Linked DNA regions of Homo sapiens. The protein of the gene in region 1 interacts with the protein of each later gene in a biochemical or structural test. Each region holds a gene or a part of one and is shown in the gene's direction. Other genes may lie near its edges.

The links.
Region 2: the proteins of STX12 (region 1) and SNAP23 form a complex in vitro, tested with the Homo sapiens proteins (one study listed by BioGRID).
Region 3: the proteins of STX12 (region 1) and EEA1 form a complex in vitro, tested with the Homo sapiens proteins (one study listed by BioGRID).
Region 4: the proteins of STX12 (region 1) and NAPA form a complex in vitro, tested with the Homo sapiens proteins (one study listed by BioGRID).

The regions. Positions count from the first base shown.
Region 1 is NC_000001.11:27,779,407-27,783,475, forward strand, and holds part of STX12 (syntaxin-12), read left to right. Parts: intron 1-4,069. UniProt on the Homo sapiens protein: SNARE promoting fusion of transport vesicles with target membranes. Together with SNARE STX6, promotes movement of vesicles from endosomes to the cell membrane, and may therefore function in the endocytic recycling pathway.
Region 2 is NC_000015.10:42,501,783-42,505,851, forward strand, and holds part of SNAP23 (synaptosomal-associated protein 23), read left to right. Parts: intron 1-4,069. UniProt on the Homo sapiens protein: Essential component of the high affinity receptor for the general membrane fusion machinery and an important regulator of transport vesicle docking and fusion.
Region 3 is NC_000012.12:92,848,961-92,853,029, reverse strand, and holds part of EEA1 (early endosome antigen 1), read left to right. Parts: intron 1-4; coding exon 5-118; intron 119-733; coding exon 734-855; intron 856-1,763; coding exon 1,764-1,919; intron 1,920-4,069. UniProt on the Homo sapiens protein: Binds phospholipid vesicles containing phosphatidylinositol 3-phosphate and participates in endosomal trafficking.
Region 4 is NC_000019.10:47,504,844-47,508,912, reverse strand, and holds part of NAPA (alpha-soluble NSF attachment protein), read left to right. Parts: intron 1-4,069. UniProt on the Homo sapiens protein: Required for vesicular transport between the endoplasmic reticulum and the Golgi apparatus. Together with GNA12 promotes CDH5 localization to plasma membrane.

The DNA.
Region 1 (4,069 bases):
CACTGTAACATCCACCTCCTGGGTTCAAGCAGTTCTCCTGCCTCAGCCTCCCGAGTTGCTGGGATTACAGGACCTGCCACCACGCCCAGCTAATTTTTGTATTTTTATAGAGACAGGGTTTCACCATGTTAGCCAGGCTGGTCTCGAACTCCTGACCTCAGATGATCCACCTGCCTCGGCCTCCGAAAGTGCTGGGATTACAGGCATGAGCCACCGTGCCTGGCCTGAATCAGATCTTAATATTTCACCTTGCTTTCACTCCCTGCGATCTTAACCCAAATTAGCCATATTTTCTACTCTTCCTTACTCTTTGCTAGGAAGGCTATTTTCTTTATGTTTCTCAACTCTATCTTTCAGTTTATATTTTGCTCATTTGGTTCCTCCTTTTTTTTTTTAGAGAAAGAGAGTTTCGCTGTTGTTAACAGCCCAGGCTGCAATGCAGTGGTGCGATCTCGGCTCACCACAACCTCTGCCTCCCAGGTTCAAGCGATCCTCCAGCCTCAGCCTCCCGAGTAGCTGGGATTACAGGCGTGTACCACCACGCCCGGCTAATTTTGTATTTTTAGTAGACACAGGGTTTCTCCATGTTGGTCAGGCTAGTCTTGAACTCCTGACCTCAGGTGATCCGCCCGCCTTGGCCTCCCAAAGTGCTGGGATTACAAGCATGAGTCACTGCGTCCGCCCTTTGGTTCCTCCTTTTTTTAGTATCTTTTCTCTCCCTACCTCATTGGCTATCTAAATTATACAAATCCTCTCAGTTGTGCATAAGTCCTGCTGATAGCAATTAAGTTTTTCTTTGCTTGTTTTTTTTTTTTTTTTTTGAGACGGAGTCTTGCTCTGTTTCCCAGGCTGGAGTGCAGTGGGGCGATCAGGCTCATTGCAACTTCCGCCTCCCAGATTCAAGCAATTCTCCTGCCTCAGCCTCCCCAGTAGCTGGGATTACAGGCGTGCACCACATGCCCGACTAATTTTTGTATTTTTAGTAGAGACAGGGTTTCACCATGTTGGCCAGGCTGGTCTTGAACTCCTGACCTCAGGTGATCTGCCTGCCTTGCCCTCCCAGAGTGCTGGGATTACAGGCGCCCAGCCTTCCTTTGCTTTTGAAAGACAAAGTGAAGTCAGAAAGATCATGGACTCTCCGGGGTCAGCAGATCTGTGACTGAATCCCTCCCCTTCCATGTATTAACCTCGAGCAGGTTATTTTCCCTGCCGTGTGTAACCCCATTTATAAAATGAGTGAAATTATTAAAAGGGGATGTTTGAGGCTGGGCACAGTGGCTCACACCTGTAATCCCAGCACTTGGGGAGGCTGAGGCGAGTGGATCTCTTGAGCTCAGAAATTTGAGACCAGCCTGGGCAACTTGGCGAAACCCTGGCTCTACCAAAAATACAAAAATTAGCTGGGTGTGGTGGCACACACCTGTAGTCCCAGCTACTTGGGAGGCTGAGATGGGCAAATCGCTGATCGCTTGAGCCTGGGAAGCAGAGGTAGCAGTGAGCCGAGATCACGTCACTGCACTCCAGTCTGGGTGACAGAGTGAGACCCTGTCTCAAAAAAAAAAAGGGGGGATGTTTGAAAGTGTCTGGTATACTGCCTGCCTGGCACATAGCAGGCGTTCAATAAATGGTGACATTATTATTATTTTTATTATTTTGAGATGGAGTCTTGCTCTGTCACTCAGGCTGGAGTACAGTGGCGCAATCTCAGCTCACTGCAACCTCTGCCTCCCGGGGTTAAGCAATTCTCATGCCTCAGCCTCCTGAGTAGCTGGGATTACAGGCTCATGCCACCACGCCCAGCTAATTTTTGTATTTTTAGTAGAGACAGGGTTTCACCATGTTGACCAAGCTGGTCTCGAACTCCTGACGTCAGGCGATTTGCCCACTGCAGCCTCCCAAAGTGCTGGGATTATAGGTGTGAGCCACCACGACCAGCCCCAGTGGTGACATTATTAATACTTGTTGAATCCCTTGCCCTGCAATAGTTTAATAGTTAGGTAGGCAGGCTCAGGAGTCATATTGCCAGGATTTGAATCCTAGATCTGCTTCTTACTAGCTGTGTAAACACATTGCTTTACCTATTTCTCAGTTTCCTTATTGTTAAAATGGAGTTAATAATACCTATTTCATAGGGTTGTGATGATTAAATGAGATAATTCATCTACAGTCCCTGCTACATAGTAAGTGCTTAAGAAATGTTAGCTCTCATTTTGGTGTATTTCCTTTGAATTTATAATACAAGCAATTTTCCCTCACAGTTTAGCACGCACTTATATTATATATTCTTTAATTAATTCAAGCTTTTTGATATTGTCACCCCAAGCAGAGAGATCACTGTTAGTTTTGTGGAGACCATGCATTATACATTTGTCTTTAGTCACAGTGCCTGGAACAACAATGCATATATAGTTGGCATTCAATATGTACTTAATTGATTTTATTACTGCTAAGTACATTTTTCTTGGTCTTGAGTTTGATAATAATAGCTATCTTTAATTGAGTGCTTTTATGTGCCATTGTTCTAAATTTAGCTTCGTATCATCTCATTTCATCCTCACAACAACCATATGAAGATTCTCTTATTCTCATTTTTAAGGCAAAGAAACTAAGGCATAGAGGAGTGGAGCCTTTTACTCAAGATCACTTTGCTTGGAAGTAGCGGGACCACGACAAGCATAGGCATAAGCAGTGGTTTTTTGTTTTTTGTTGTTTTGAGAAAGGGTCTTGCTCTGTCACCCAGGATGTGCCAGTAGTACAGTGGTACCGTCATAGGTCACTGCAACCTTGAACTCAAGGGATCCCCCCACCTCCACCTTCCGAGTAGCTAGGACTACAGGCACGCACCACCACGTCCAAGTAATTTTTTAATTTTTTGTAGAGACGGGCTCACTTTGTTGCCCAGGCTGGTGTCAAACTCCTGGGTTCAAGTGATCCTCCCACCTTGGCCTCCCAAAGTGCTGGGGTTACAAACTTGAACCACCATGCCTGGCCATATAGGCGGTCTTAATTCAGAGCTATGCTCTTAACCATTGCATATTCTGAAACTGGTATGGTTAAAGGAAAATTATACCTTTGATATTTAGTATCCATTTTCACTTTAGTCTAGAACTTTACTGTTATGGTACAGTGGCTATTTTTTAAAGTCAGGTTGATGGACACGGTGACTCACACCTGTAATTCCAGCACTTTGGGAGGGCAGGGTGGGCAGATCGCCTCAGGTCAGGAGTTCGAGACCAGCCTCGCTAACATGGTGAAACCCTGTTTACTAAAAATATACAAATTAGCCCGGCATGGTGGTGGGCACCTGTAATCCCAGCTACTTGGGAAGCTGAGACAGGAGAATCACTTGAACCCAGGAGGTGGAGGTTGCAGTGAGCTGAGACCGTGCCATTGCACTCCAACCTGGGCAAAGAGAGCAAAGCTCTGTCTCAAAAAAATGAAACATTTTTTAAAAAAGGTAATTTTCATTGTAGTGATATAAAAACAGAATGTAAACCTAATTTTCAGAGTAAAACACTGAGATGACTTCATTTTCATAATCACCACATAGGCTATCATTTTCTCATTTGGTGTAAATAATGTTTTTTTGTTGTTGAATTTGTTTAAAATACTGACTTAGAGCATTCGATCCTGTCAAATGAAGAGAAATCTTTTTCCCACCTCTGATGATAGTTACTTTCAATATAATTTGACTTTGATTTGACTTTGCTTTGGATGAAGGTTCATTTGGAGATTCAGATTCTGCCGATATCAGCTTAAAGTACAAAAAGAATTTTCAGTTTAGAGTAGTTCCTAGTGTGGATGTTAGCTGTAATGTATAACAAATTGATTTGCTTCATACTCTTTTAAAAGTTTTAGCCAGGATATGCTTTTTTAAAATGAGAGGTCAGCGATAGGAGAAATTGAGTCCTAGTTGTTTGTTTTTTGTTTTTGTTTTTGTTTTTTTGAGATGGAGTCGCGCTCTGTTGCCGAGGCTGGAGTGCAGTGGCACGATCTCAGCTTACTGCAACCTCCGCTCCCGGGTTCAAGCAATTCTTCTGCCTCAGCCTTCTGAGTAGCTGAGACTATA
Region 2 (4,069 bases), on another chromosome or scaffold:
ACTGCTCTAAATACTGTGCTTGAATTAGCTCAATCCATGTAACAACACTTAAAGTAAGCATTATTCTCATTTAATGAGGAAACTGAAGCACAGAAAAGTTAACAGTAATCAGGATTTGAAACCATTATGCCTTCAGATATTGGGCACATAACTACTATACTATGTTGTCTTTTGTATAAGCAAGAATGCCACTCTTTTCTGTTGGGGGTATCCTTTCCAGGGACGTGAGTGCTTATATTCTCTCTTTTTTTTTTTTTTTTTTTGAGACGGAGTCTCGCTCTGTCGCCTAGGCTGGAGTGCAGTGGCGCGATCTTGGCTGACTGCAAGCTCTGCCTCCCAGGTTCACGCCATTCTCCTGCCTCAGCCTCCTGAGTAGCTGGGACTACAGGCGCCCACTACCACGCCCGGCTAATTTTCTGTTTTTTAGTAGAGACGGTTTCACCTTGTTAGCCAGGATGGTCTCGATCTCCTGACCTCGTGATCCGCCTGCCTCAGCCTCCCAAAGTGCTGGGATTACAGGCATGAGCCACTGCGCCCGGCAGAGTGCTTATATTCGCTGTCTGTAGCTTCTGACTCTTAATATCGGAATATTTGAAAAACTAACCAGAAAGCATCAAAGTGGCTGGGTGTGGTGTCTCACGCCTTCTGGCATTTTGGGAGTCCAAGACAGAAGGATTGCTTGAGGCCAGGAGTTCAAGACCAGCCTGGGCAACATAGTGAGCCACCCTATATCTACCTAAATAAATAAATAAATAAATAAAGCATCTAAGTGAACTTAATCAGAGCTAAACTATGTGGATGGTTTCGGTGAATATTTCATTCAGGCAGGGTGAATCCTTGCCAATTAATCTCACCCCGTACTTGGTATCTCCCTGGCAGATACCACACTTATGCCTGCCACATTGTCTCTTCCTGGGTAGATTGCCAGCTTCTGGCTCTTGAGCCCCGTTCTTATCTTTCACATAGAACGTCCCCTTTCTGTTCACATAACCATTCTCATTGATAGGGTTAATAAAATTGATTACAATCAAACCTACATCTACCTCCCCAGTATTACTCCTGGGTCACTTAGAGTAGAATTGTGGAAGTTCCTAATTTGACAGGGACTTGAAGACCAGGCGTTGGACATCAAGCAATTAAGTTACCATAGGTGCTTCTGTAAAACTGAAGTTTAATTTTTTTTGTAATTAGAGTCAGGGTCTTGCTATGTTGCCCAGGTTACATTTAAACTCCTGGGCTCAGGTGATCCTCCTGCCTCAGCTTCCTGAGTAGCTGGGACTATAGGCCTGAAAATGTAATTTTGGTTTTCTTTTTGGTTCCTGATTTTTAGTGGGACTTTCCCATTTGTTAATATGATTTCTGTCTTGAATCTTGTGCTTCAGTGTACTTTGAAACCAAGCTGATTTTTGTTTGTTTTGTTTTTTCGTGTTGTTTTTTAAGATGGAGTCTCGCTCTGTCGCTGAGGCTGGAGTGCAGCGGTGCGATCTCGGCTAACTGCAACCTCCGCCTCCCGGGTTCAAGTGATTCTCCTGCCTTAGCCTCCTGAGTAGCTGGGATTACAGGTGCCCGCCACCACGCCTGGCTAATTTTTTTTTTTTTTTTTTTGAGATGGTGTCTCACTCCGTTGCCCAGGCTGGAGTACAGTGGCACAATCTCGACTCACTGCAACCTCTGCCTCCTGGGTTCAAGTGATTTTCCTGCCTCAGCCTCCCAAGTAGCTAGGATTACAGGCACATGCCACCACGCCCAGCTAATTTTTGTATTTTTAGTAGAGACGGGGTTTTGCCGTGTTGGCCAGGCTGGTCTCGAACCCATGACCTCAAGTGATCTGCCCTCCTCAGCCTCCCAAAGTGCTAGGATTACAGGCGTGAGCCACCATACCCGGCCTTTGGTATTTTTTAGTAGAGACGGGGTTTTTCCATGTTGGCCAGTCTGGTCTCAAACTCCTGACCTCAGGTGATCCACCCACCTTGGCCTCCCAAAGTGCTGGGATTACAAATGTGAGCCACTGCGCCTGGCCTGAAACCAAGCTGTTTAGTAGATACGATTCTGTGATGTACTTAGTATATTTGCATTTGAGTTATAGACTTTGTATGGTAAAAAGAAAAGAGTTTTTAAAAAGAGAAAAAAATATGTATGTATATTTGCATAGTTTTGGGGCCTATATATAAAAATGGTTAAAGTTGTTTGTGTAGAAGGAGATAGAAAGGAAAGCCCAGAGAGGAAGTAAAAGGAGGAAGCCATCCTTAACATAAAGGAGACCCTTGCCAGGCAAAGTGGCTCATACATGTAATCCCAGCACTTTGGGAGGCTGAGCCAGGAGCATCACTTGAGGCCAGGAGTTTGAGACCAGCCTGGGCAACATAGTGAGACCCTGCCTCTACAAAAAAAAAAATAATAATATAATAAAAGGGCCAGGTGTAGTGGTGGGCACCTGTAATCCCAGCTACTCGGGAGACTGGGGAAGGAGAATCACTTGAACCCTGGGGCAGAGGTTGCAGTGACCTAAGATTGCACCACTGCACTCCAGCCTGGGCAACAGAGCGAGACTCCGTCTCAAATAAAATAAAGTAAAATAAAATAAAATAAAAAGTGAGACTCTGTCTCAAAAAAAAAGTTGTATATAGCCTATACTTTATATCATCAACTTTAATATTCAAATTTAGCCTTGCAGATGGAACTATTAATATTTAGTAGCTATTACTTTCAGCTACATTTACATAAATGTGACTCATATTCAACATTGTTACTTTCCTTTTGTTTTGCCTACTATTTATTTCCACTTCAGTAAAAATATTAATATAATGGCTAACATTGAACACCGGCCATGTGCAAGGCATTGTACTAAGTACTTTGTGTAGATCATCTCTTTTTAATCTTCACAAAAAAAACAAAACTATAAAATAGAATGTTATCCTTGTTTTACAAATACAGAAACCGAGTTTTAGTGGTGTTAGGTAATTAACTTGGGGTCACACAACAAATACATTGTGAGGCTGGAATTTATATGCTGGAATTCCCACTCACCCACTATGCTATCCTGCTATAAACAGAAGTTTCCTCTTGCTGCGGATGCATTGGTTACCATGGACGTAGACTTCTATCAAGCCAAAGAGAATGCTGAACTTAAAAGTACAGTAATAAACCCTTTGAGTGTAACTCATTGAGGAGCTTTATTGTGATTAATTTTCAGAGAAGGAATAAGGCAGGAAACTAATTTGGTAGAATATTTTAGCTGCAAAATCCTTGTTTACCAGTATAAAAAGAATTATCTTATAAAATCATTCTTTGCAAGACCCTGTGAAATTGATGGTGATTTTTTTTTTCTTTTTTTTTCAGACAGTCTTGCTCTGTTGCCCAGGCTGGAGTGCAGTGAGTCTTGGCTCACTGCAGCCTCTGCCTCCCAGGCTCAAGCCACAGACGTGCACTACTGCACTCGGCTAATTTTTGTGTTTTCTTTTTAGTAGAGCTGGGGTTTCACCGTATTGGGCAGTCTGGTCTTGAACTACTGGCCTCAAGTGATCCGCCCACCTCTGCCTCCCACAGTGCTGGGATTACAGGCATGAGCCACCACGCCTGGCCTGATGGTGATTTAAAGTGCTCTTTCTTCATTACTTCTTGAGTAGCTCACCAGTTTTACAAATGAAGCCACATGGATCTTCCAAGGCCTTATTTAAATTCCAGGGCCTTTTTTCTGTGTATTTCTTTCCAAGAAGCTCATTTACTTTTCCTTTCTTCTTTTCTTCTCTTTTCTTTTACTTCCTTTCTGCTTGCATTTTTTTTTTTTTTTTTTGAGACGGAGTCTTGCTGTTGCCCAGGCTGAAGTACAGTGGCATGATCTCGGCTCACTGCGACCTTTGCCTCTCGGGTTCAATCAACTCTCCTGTCTCAGCCTCCTGAGTAGCTGGGATTATAGGTGTGCATCACCACGCCTGGCTAATTTTTGTATTTTTAGTAGAGACGGGGTTTCACCATGTTGGCCAGGCTGGTCTTGAACTCCTGACCTTAGGTGATCTGCCCACCTTGGCCTTCCAGAGTGCTGGGATTACAGGCGTGAGCCACCGCACCT
Region 3 (4,069 bases), on another chromosome or scaffold:
GTAGAACTACAGTCTTTGGAACAGCAATTAGAAGAAGCCCAAACAGAAAATTTTAATATTAAGCAAATGAAAGACTTATTTGAACAGAAAGCAGCCCAACTTGCTACTGAAATTGCAGGTAAATTGAGTTAGAATTTTTTAGCCAATAAATCAATCTCATTACCTTTTTGCCATTATATACCCTAGCAATAAATATAGTATTTTAGTGTGTTAAAGCATTTGTGATAGACTTCCAATGGTGATTAATGGAATTTAATGATTTCAGAGTTGCTATGTAAATTATTTTGTTTGTCCTCTAGCTGCCTGCCTTCAAAGGACTGGTGTTTCTTTGTAGATTCTTCTTGAAATTTAGAGAAGATACATTTTCTTCTGTGGCATGCTTAAAGATTAAAAAGGAACATTTTAAAGAAGTGAAGTAAATAATGTAGTATAAATGTAACACTTGGTTATACTATTACATATATATGTTTTTAACATGTGCTTTTAGGTAAAATATGTGATTAAGTACATTAAAATGCTAATTATTAACTTAATGTTGAGTGGAATTTATGTAGACAGTTAATTTTAAGTTCATTTCATGTAATTAGAAGTATAAATTTACTGTATATATTTATGGTTATCTAAGGAATGTGAATTTGAATTAGAGTGATATACAGATATGCAGAGTAATATATGGAAACTTATAAAACTGTCCTCCCCTTAAACTAATATTTATATAACTATCTTTAATTAGATATAAAGTCAAAGTATGATGAAGAAAGGAGTCTTCGAGAAGCTGCTGAACAAAAAGTGACACGTCTGACAGAAGAATTAAACAAAGAGGCAACTGTAATTCAAGATCTGAAGACGGAACTGGTAATTTAGGAATTATTTATTGAGATGTACTCTTATACCTTTCTAAATTAAAAATAAAATACATACCCTGAAGGAAAATGTTTAAAAATATAATTTGAGTGAAATCAGGAAATAAGCAATTCCCTATATTCTACCACCTGCATATATATTCTGTATATGATTTTTAAAATAAAAATGGAATGTTATGATACGTAACTTACTACCTTAACATTTTTGTTGTTTCTATCTAAATATCATCTGTCATTTTAGTAGTTTTCATATCTGCATCTCTGATCCTGGTCTTCTCTTGCATGTTTGTTTTATAAATCCATCTGCTTTTAGGGTACTTTGTGTTGAATTTCTAGCTTTAATTTCAAATTCAACAAGTATAAAATCAAAGTAATCATGTTTCCTCATTACTGTATTTCTGTTATTGGAACCATACATCTCTAATACTCTCCCAAGACTTAATAATCTTGGATCTGTCCTTGACTTTCTTTCCTTTATTTAGCTCTCAATAAATATATAAATTAACTACATCCAACCTGGAGCAAACTCTATGCTTTCATTTGCTCCTTCATTTTTATTACCAGTTTTGTAGGATAGAAAAAGAAGGAATGTAGCATTTTCAAGTCACTGTTATGACCAATAGATGTAGTTTGTGAAGGGAAGGAAAACAAATAAAGTAGTAAAGATAATTGTGAATTTACTATACAGCACCTTGAGTATTAATACTATTAAATATGAGGTAGGATGGGAAGAGGAAGTGGCTTATTGTGGGAGAAGATATCAGTGTTCAATGTTTGAAGTCTAAAAATTGATATTGATGATTGTTTCCCTTTTGATTCCTTTGTAGTGAAATGATTCTAAAAATGTGTATTATTTTAGTTTTTCACTTTAATTTTTAATTAAAATGTGTTGTTTCACAGCTTCAGAGACCTGGTATAGAAGATGTTGCCGTGCTAAAGAAAGAACTGGTCCAAGTTCAAACACTAATGGATAACATGACCTTGGAACGTGAGCGAGAATCTGAAAAACTCAAAGATGAATGCAAAAAATTGCAGTCACAATATGCTAGCTCAGAGGTAATGAAGTTCATTGTACTTAAATGTGATTCATATTAGCTTGTGTAGTGTATACTATTGAGTGAAGCCAGGATTTGAGATTTTTCTGAGTGGCCTATCAAAATATTTGTCTTTCTTTCATTTTTGATCTGAATAATATTTGTTTATAGTCAATGTGGTCTCTCAGTATGTTTTGCTTTATAAAGCTAGACACTCAGGAATATTTGCATAAAGATTATTATTCTGTTTAATATATATATTGTTGACATGATATTTAAGGTTAAATTTACTCAAGGTTGGTTGATAAATGGTAATTGACTTTAAAGGAAGAATGATAGCATTTTCTACAATTATATTACCAATTTTGTTTAGAAAATATATTTAAGAAAGGCTTATTTTGTAATAAGCTTATTTCTTTTTTTTTTTTTTTTTTTTTTTTTTTGAGACAAAGTCTTGCTCTGTCACCCAGGCTGGAGTGCAGTGGCGTGATCTCAGCTCACTGCAACATCCACCTCCCGGGTTCAAGTGATTCTTCTGCCTCAGCCTCCCAAGTAGCTGGGATTACAGGTGCCTGCCACCACGCTTGGCTAATTTTTGTATTTTTAGTAGAGATGGGGCTTCACCATGTTGGCCAGGCTGGTCTCGAACTCCTGACCTCAGACGGTCTGCCTGTCTTGGCTTCCCAAAGTGTTGGGATTACAGGCGTGAGCCACTGCACCCGGCCATAAGCTTATTTCTAATTGATGGACTTTGAATTATGAATTTGAAAGAAGTCTTGAACTAGTCTAAATTCAGTCCAGAACTTCCCTTTATGCCAACCCTGCTAAGTGATCCACAATCCTTGCTAGGTGGTGTACGGTGTGCATATTTCTTCCTAAGTCTATTTTATTGAGCTGACATTTGTTTCCCTGTAATTTACATGCGCTGGTTCTGGTTCTGTCCTTAGGAATTACACAGAATAAATTGTTCCTCTTTCCACATGAGGTATTTGAAGACTGCTCATATTTATTCGGAGTATTTCTCTTCCAAGATAAACATTTTCAGTTCTTCTACTATTTCTTACATGACATGACTTTGGCCTGTAAATCCCTTGTATAATATGTCAGCATTTAATAAACTCTAAGATGTATAATACATAAATGTGCTTAAAAATCCTAGCCTTTGTCCTTTTTACTTTATTATAGGAGACATTTTGTTATGACTACTGTTATTTGTAGTCTTTAAGCTCCCTTATGTAAAGTAGACCTCTGATTTTCATATTTTCAGTTTAAAAAGTTGTTACCGTAACATTTTAATTTGAATCTCTTCCTTAGAGTTTTGTAACTGGTGATCTAAAAGCCACTCTATTCACAAATATAACATGTCATCAAGCTTTGGGGTATAAGTATTATAGATAACCCATGTCTAATTCATTTTTAAAAATCTTTCTTTATCTTATGGGAAGAGATGGTGAAAGTTTGTGGATATAACACACATAGGCATGTAAGGCCTTATGATGCCTAACACTACACTCTCTAACTTATGATATTTGGATGCAGTTTTTCCAAAATTGACACTTTGTAGCCCAATAACACTTAATTCCAAAAATTTTCAAACAATTTCAGGTGGTTCATGAACTTACTGAAGCCAGTTAAAAGCTCTTGTCCTACTGGTATTATTAATCAGCAGAAGACAATGATAAATCTATAAGTACAAATGTGAAATCAAGGAGAGGCTGAATCAAAGAAGTCTCATGAGGAAAAGTGCTATTCAGATGTTAATGTCAAAATACCTAAACCAGGGTGAACCCAGTCATTTATTTCTTTGTATCAGTAAGAACTATTTTTGTTTAGATATGTCTGCCTATTGGTATTTCTCAAATTAAAAAAAAATACACTCCCTTTTGATTAAAAAATATCTTAAATGCTATTTGAAATTTTAAAATAAATGTATTATGGTGACTAAAACAGAACCAAATTAATGTCAGTTTTAGGAATATGTATTTTAAAGTTGAGTCCTCTCTGACTTATTCCAGCTGCAAGTTTTGGAGTTATGCATATACTTTTTAAACAAATAGAACATTAACAAGGAAAATAAATTTACATGTTTACTTGCATTTAAAAAAAATACAGGCTGAGTATGGTGGCTCACCTCTATAATCCCAGGACTTTGGCAGCTGAGGCAGGCAGATT
Region 4 (4,069 bases), on another chromosome or scaffold:
GGGGTCTCACTGTGTTGCCCAGGCTGGTCTCAAACTCGAGATCAAGCAACCCTCCTGCTTCGGCCTCCCAAAGCCCTGGGATTGTAGGTGTGAGCCACTGTGGCCAGACATGCTGCCATTTTGTAGATAAAGAATGGAATCTCAGCACTTTGGGAGCAGAGGCAGGAGGATTGCTTGAGCCCAGGAGTTCGAGACCAGTGTAGGCAACACAGGGAGACCCCATCTCTTATTTAAAAAAAAAAAGCCTCAGGGATAACTAGCCCCAGGTCGAACACTTAGCAAAGTACCTGAAACGGACTTCAGCCCAGGTCTCGCCACCCCAAAGTCATTCTCTTTCTACCCCTTGTCTTTGCCCAGACAGGCATGTCACAAGAGGGTCCTGTGGCGATTTCAGAGCTGGGCAGTTAGCCTGTGACACTTTATTCTTTCACCGTTGTTAACTGGGGCTTGTGGAGAGATGGGAAAGCAGAGCTGGGCTCAGGCCCCGCCCTGCAGGAACTCATACTCTGCTTGGTCAGGCAAGGCCCACTGCAGAGTGGCGGGAGGCAGCTGGTGGTTTCCCGCTTCCAGGTGATACTGGTGGCGGTGCCTTCAGGATGCTGAGCCTCTGGCAGCTCCCAGCTCCAGTGCAGTCAGTGGACTAGCAGGGCTGGTGGCCCCCGGCTCCCTGTGCCAGGGTGGACCCTGCACCACAGGCAGCCTTAACTTTTTCTGACGTTCCTTCTGCCTGTTGGCTTGTTACTGGCAGGCTCGGTAGGGGGCTGGCTTAATTCATACTCCTTTGCCTAGAGGATGCTCCACGCAGCCCCAGCAGAGAGCAGCCTCTGCTCGTGAGATGAGGGAAGCCTAGGCAGTACAGGCTCCCTGGCTTCTTTAATCTAGAGGAGGGGTGGGGGCAGGCAGGGACCTTGTCCTCCCTCCTTATTTTCCCAAGGAGCCTTGGGCATGGGGAAGGAAGCCTTCCTGATCACTGAGTGAGAGGCAAGGGCAGGACTGGATCCCCAGGGCCCCAGTCCTCTTTCCAAGCCCTGCTGCTTCCTGGCAGGGTAAGCTTGGACAAGCCCTCCGCCCTCTCTGAGCCCCAGCTTCCTCGCCTGTAAAGCAAGGGCAGCACCCAAAGGGCTCTCGTGAGGAGCTGTGGGCTCCTTCCAGGGGAGTGCCTGGGAGGCAGGGAACGCCATGCGCCAGCCGTGATTAAGGCACATGGTCTCGAGAGCCGTGCAGGAGGTGGGCTTACAGGGAAGACACAGGCATGTGACGGGCCCTAGGACACCTTCCCCACTGAGGGTGCTGACTGGAGACTTGGGGCAGTGGGCCTTAAGTCTGAGGAGGAAACCGTAGGCCTGTGGCTGTGGCTTCCACAGAGGCAAGAGAGATAGAGTGAGTCCAGGACCCGAAATGGGGGCCTGACTTTGTCCACCCTGCCTCGTGAGGTCCTTCGGGAGCTGCAGGTGGTGGGTCTCAGGGCATGGTGTATTTCTGGCAGCCAGGAAGTGCCTGGTGGATGGAGGAAGGAAGGAGGGGGCTAAGACTCTGCCCTGCACAACCCCCTGGCCCAGGTCCCATCAGGCATCTGTGTATTCCTGGCAGTGCCCAGCCTTCCATATGGCAGTCCCTGAGGTTGGTGGCTGTGTTTGGGAGACCTGAGACTCCTTCCTCCGCCTTGGAGGGGGAGAGAGCAAAGCTGAGCGGGTAATTATAGACAGCCCTGCATCAGGCAGCCCAAACCAGTTCCCTCTATTCCCGGAGTGGCTCAGAGCCGTGGGATGGGAGGAGTGAAGCAGAGGCAGCTTGGGGGAGGTCAGTGGGGGAGGGACAGTCAGCTGTCACATGCGCTGCCACCCAGGCCCTCAGGAGAGGAGGCCCAGCTAGATTTTCCTTTCGTGTACTGTTGTTATCTCCTGGCACGTAATAAATGCTCGGATACCTGTTCCCCAGGTGAATAAATGTGTATGTGAATGGCTTCTTCAGGATCTTCCACTGGAACCTAGGCACGTCACTTTCCCCCTTTGGGGACTTCACTCCCATTTCTAAAAGAAGAGGATGGGACCCTGGAGATCTCCTGTCATCCCCTGGCCATGGTAATGGGCAAGACCGCGGGGTGCAGGGGAAGAAGGAGGCAAGCCTGGGGCCTGAGCAGGTGTTAATCCCTCTGGCCTTTCCACCCCACAGAATCATTGACCCCGTGCAGGGTTGGCTGTGCTTAGCCTGGGATCACAGAGTTTCAGCCCGGGCAGCTGGTAGGCTTTGTGTCCGTCCTGAAATAAACCCGGCTGGGCTGACTCTGCTCATTGTTGATTGCCCGCTGTGGGCCACTCAGTGACGTGGGTCATTTCTGCCCATCCAGGGTCTGTGCTTTTTCAGAGAGTGCATGGAGCTGGATAGGACTTAGTCACACTCAAAAAGAAGGGAAGGCTGAGCTGGGGGACCTGTGGGGTGGGCAGACCTGTGATTAAGGTCTGAAAATGTCCCTTTAAGAGAACATTCCAGAGAAGGTCCTTCTGAGGGTTTTTTGCAGCCAGGCCCCAAAGGACCCTTCAGGATTCTCAGCCAGAAGGTTTTGAAAGTTTCTTACCTCTCCAAGGCCAGGAATGGGTTCTAAAGAAGTCATTCCAGGCTGGGCACGGTGGCTCATGCCTGTAATCCCAGCACTTTGGGAGGCCGAGGCGAGTGGACCACTTGAGGTCAGGAGTTCGAGACCAGCCTGGCCAACGTGGTGAAACCCTGTCTCTACTAATAATACAAAAATTAGTAGGGTGTGATGGCACACATCTGTAATCCCAGCTACTCAGGAGGCTGAGGCAGGAGAATTGCTTGAACCCGGGAGTTGGAGGTTGCAGTAAGCTGAGATCGTGCCACTGTACTCCAGCCTGGGCGACAAGAGCGAAACTCCATCTCAAAAAAAAAAAAAAAAAAAAGAAGTCACTCCAAACAAGGCCCAAGGTGTGTTGGGCTGGCTGAGGTGAGGTGGGTGAGGGAAGACAGAGTGCAGCAGGGCGAGTGCGGGAAGAACACATTGCTCAGGGCCACTTCCCAGGGACAGCAGAGGGTGGGGGACAGCATCAGCACAGCCCCAGAAGGCAGAGGGTAGGCTTTTCATCTGGCAAGATGACAGAGAGGATAGGAATAAATAGATTATTTACCTGGTGTGATGTGGATTCAGGAGGCCAGGATCCCTGGCCCAACCAGCCCGCCCACCGTGGGGGCATTTATTTGCCTGCTGACATTGCCAGGCCTGGCCGCTGATCTGATCGCTGGTGGCTGCTTTCCAGGTAGTCGGTCTCAGTCAATTTTTCCTTCTCAAACTCACCTGATCAGCTGAATTACCTGGGCCCCCCAAACCCCAATTGTTAAAAATCTCATTTGCAGGCCCCATCCAGACCCTACTGAGCGAATCCCAAAGTGTGTGGCTGTGGGACTCTGGTTTGATGAAATGAGCACTTCATGTGGCTGAAAGGGATGGGCAGGTTGGACACACTGAATCCGCAGTGCAGAGGGAAGGAATGCTCACATCCCAGCTCCCAAAATTACCTTTGAGCCCCTCCACAGCTGGGGTTGGTGTGGACAAGTTCCCAGGTATAATGTTGGGCCAGTTGACACAGGGTGTGGGATGGGATGGTGAGGATGATTTGAATGGGAAAGTACCCACTCCTCCCTTTTCTCTTCCTTAAAAATAAACTAAACACTAGTTATGCCAGTGAAGAGAGGCCCTGAAATCCATTTGGTGGGACTCCAGAGTGTGTGGATTTTATTCTACTGATTATGTAGATATTGGGAGTTTGAGCAGTTACAGAGACTACAGACCTCGCGGGCTAAGCCTGGTTGTATTATTAAGGGCAGAAGAATGCAGTGGGACTTACGGGTTTGAGGTACTAATGAGGTCCCCCAAGTCAAGAGGAGGCTCATTATGTACATGTGGAGGTCAAGAAGCCAGAGTGAAGCTGCCCAAACAGGGTACCCTTTATGTTTTCAAATTCCTGTCTATCTCCCAGTGTATCCCTACTGTTGGACAATAAGTTTTTGGGGGGTTTTGCTGTTTTAAATAATGCTATGCTGAACATCCTTGTAA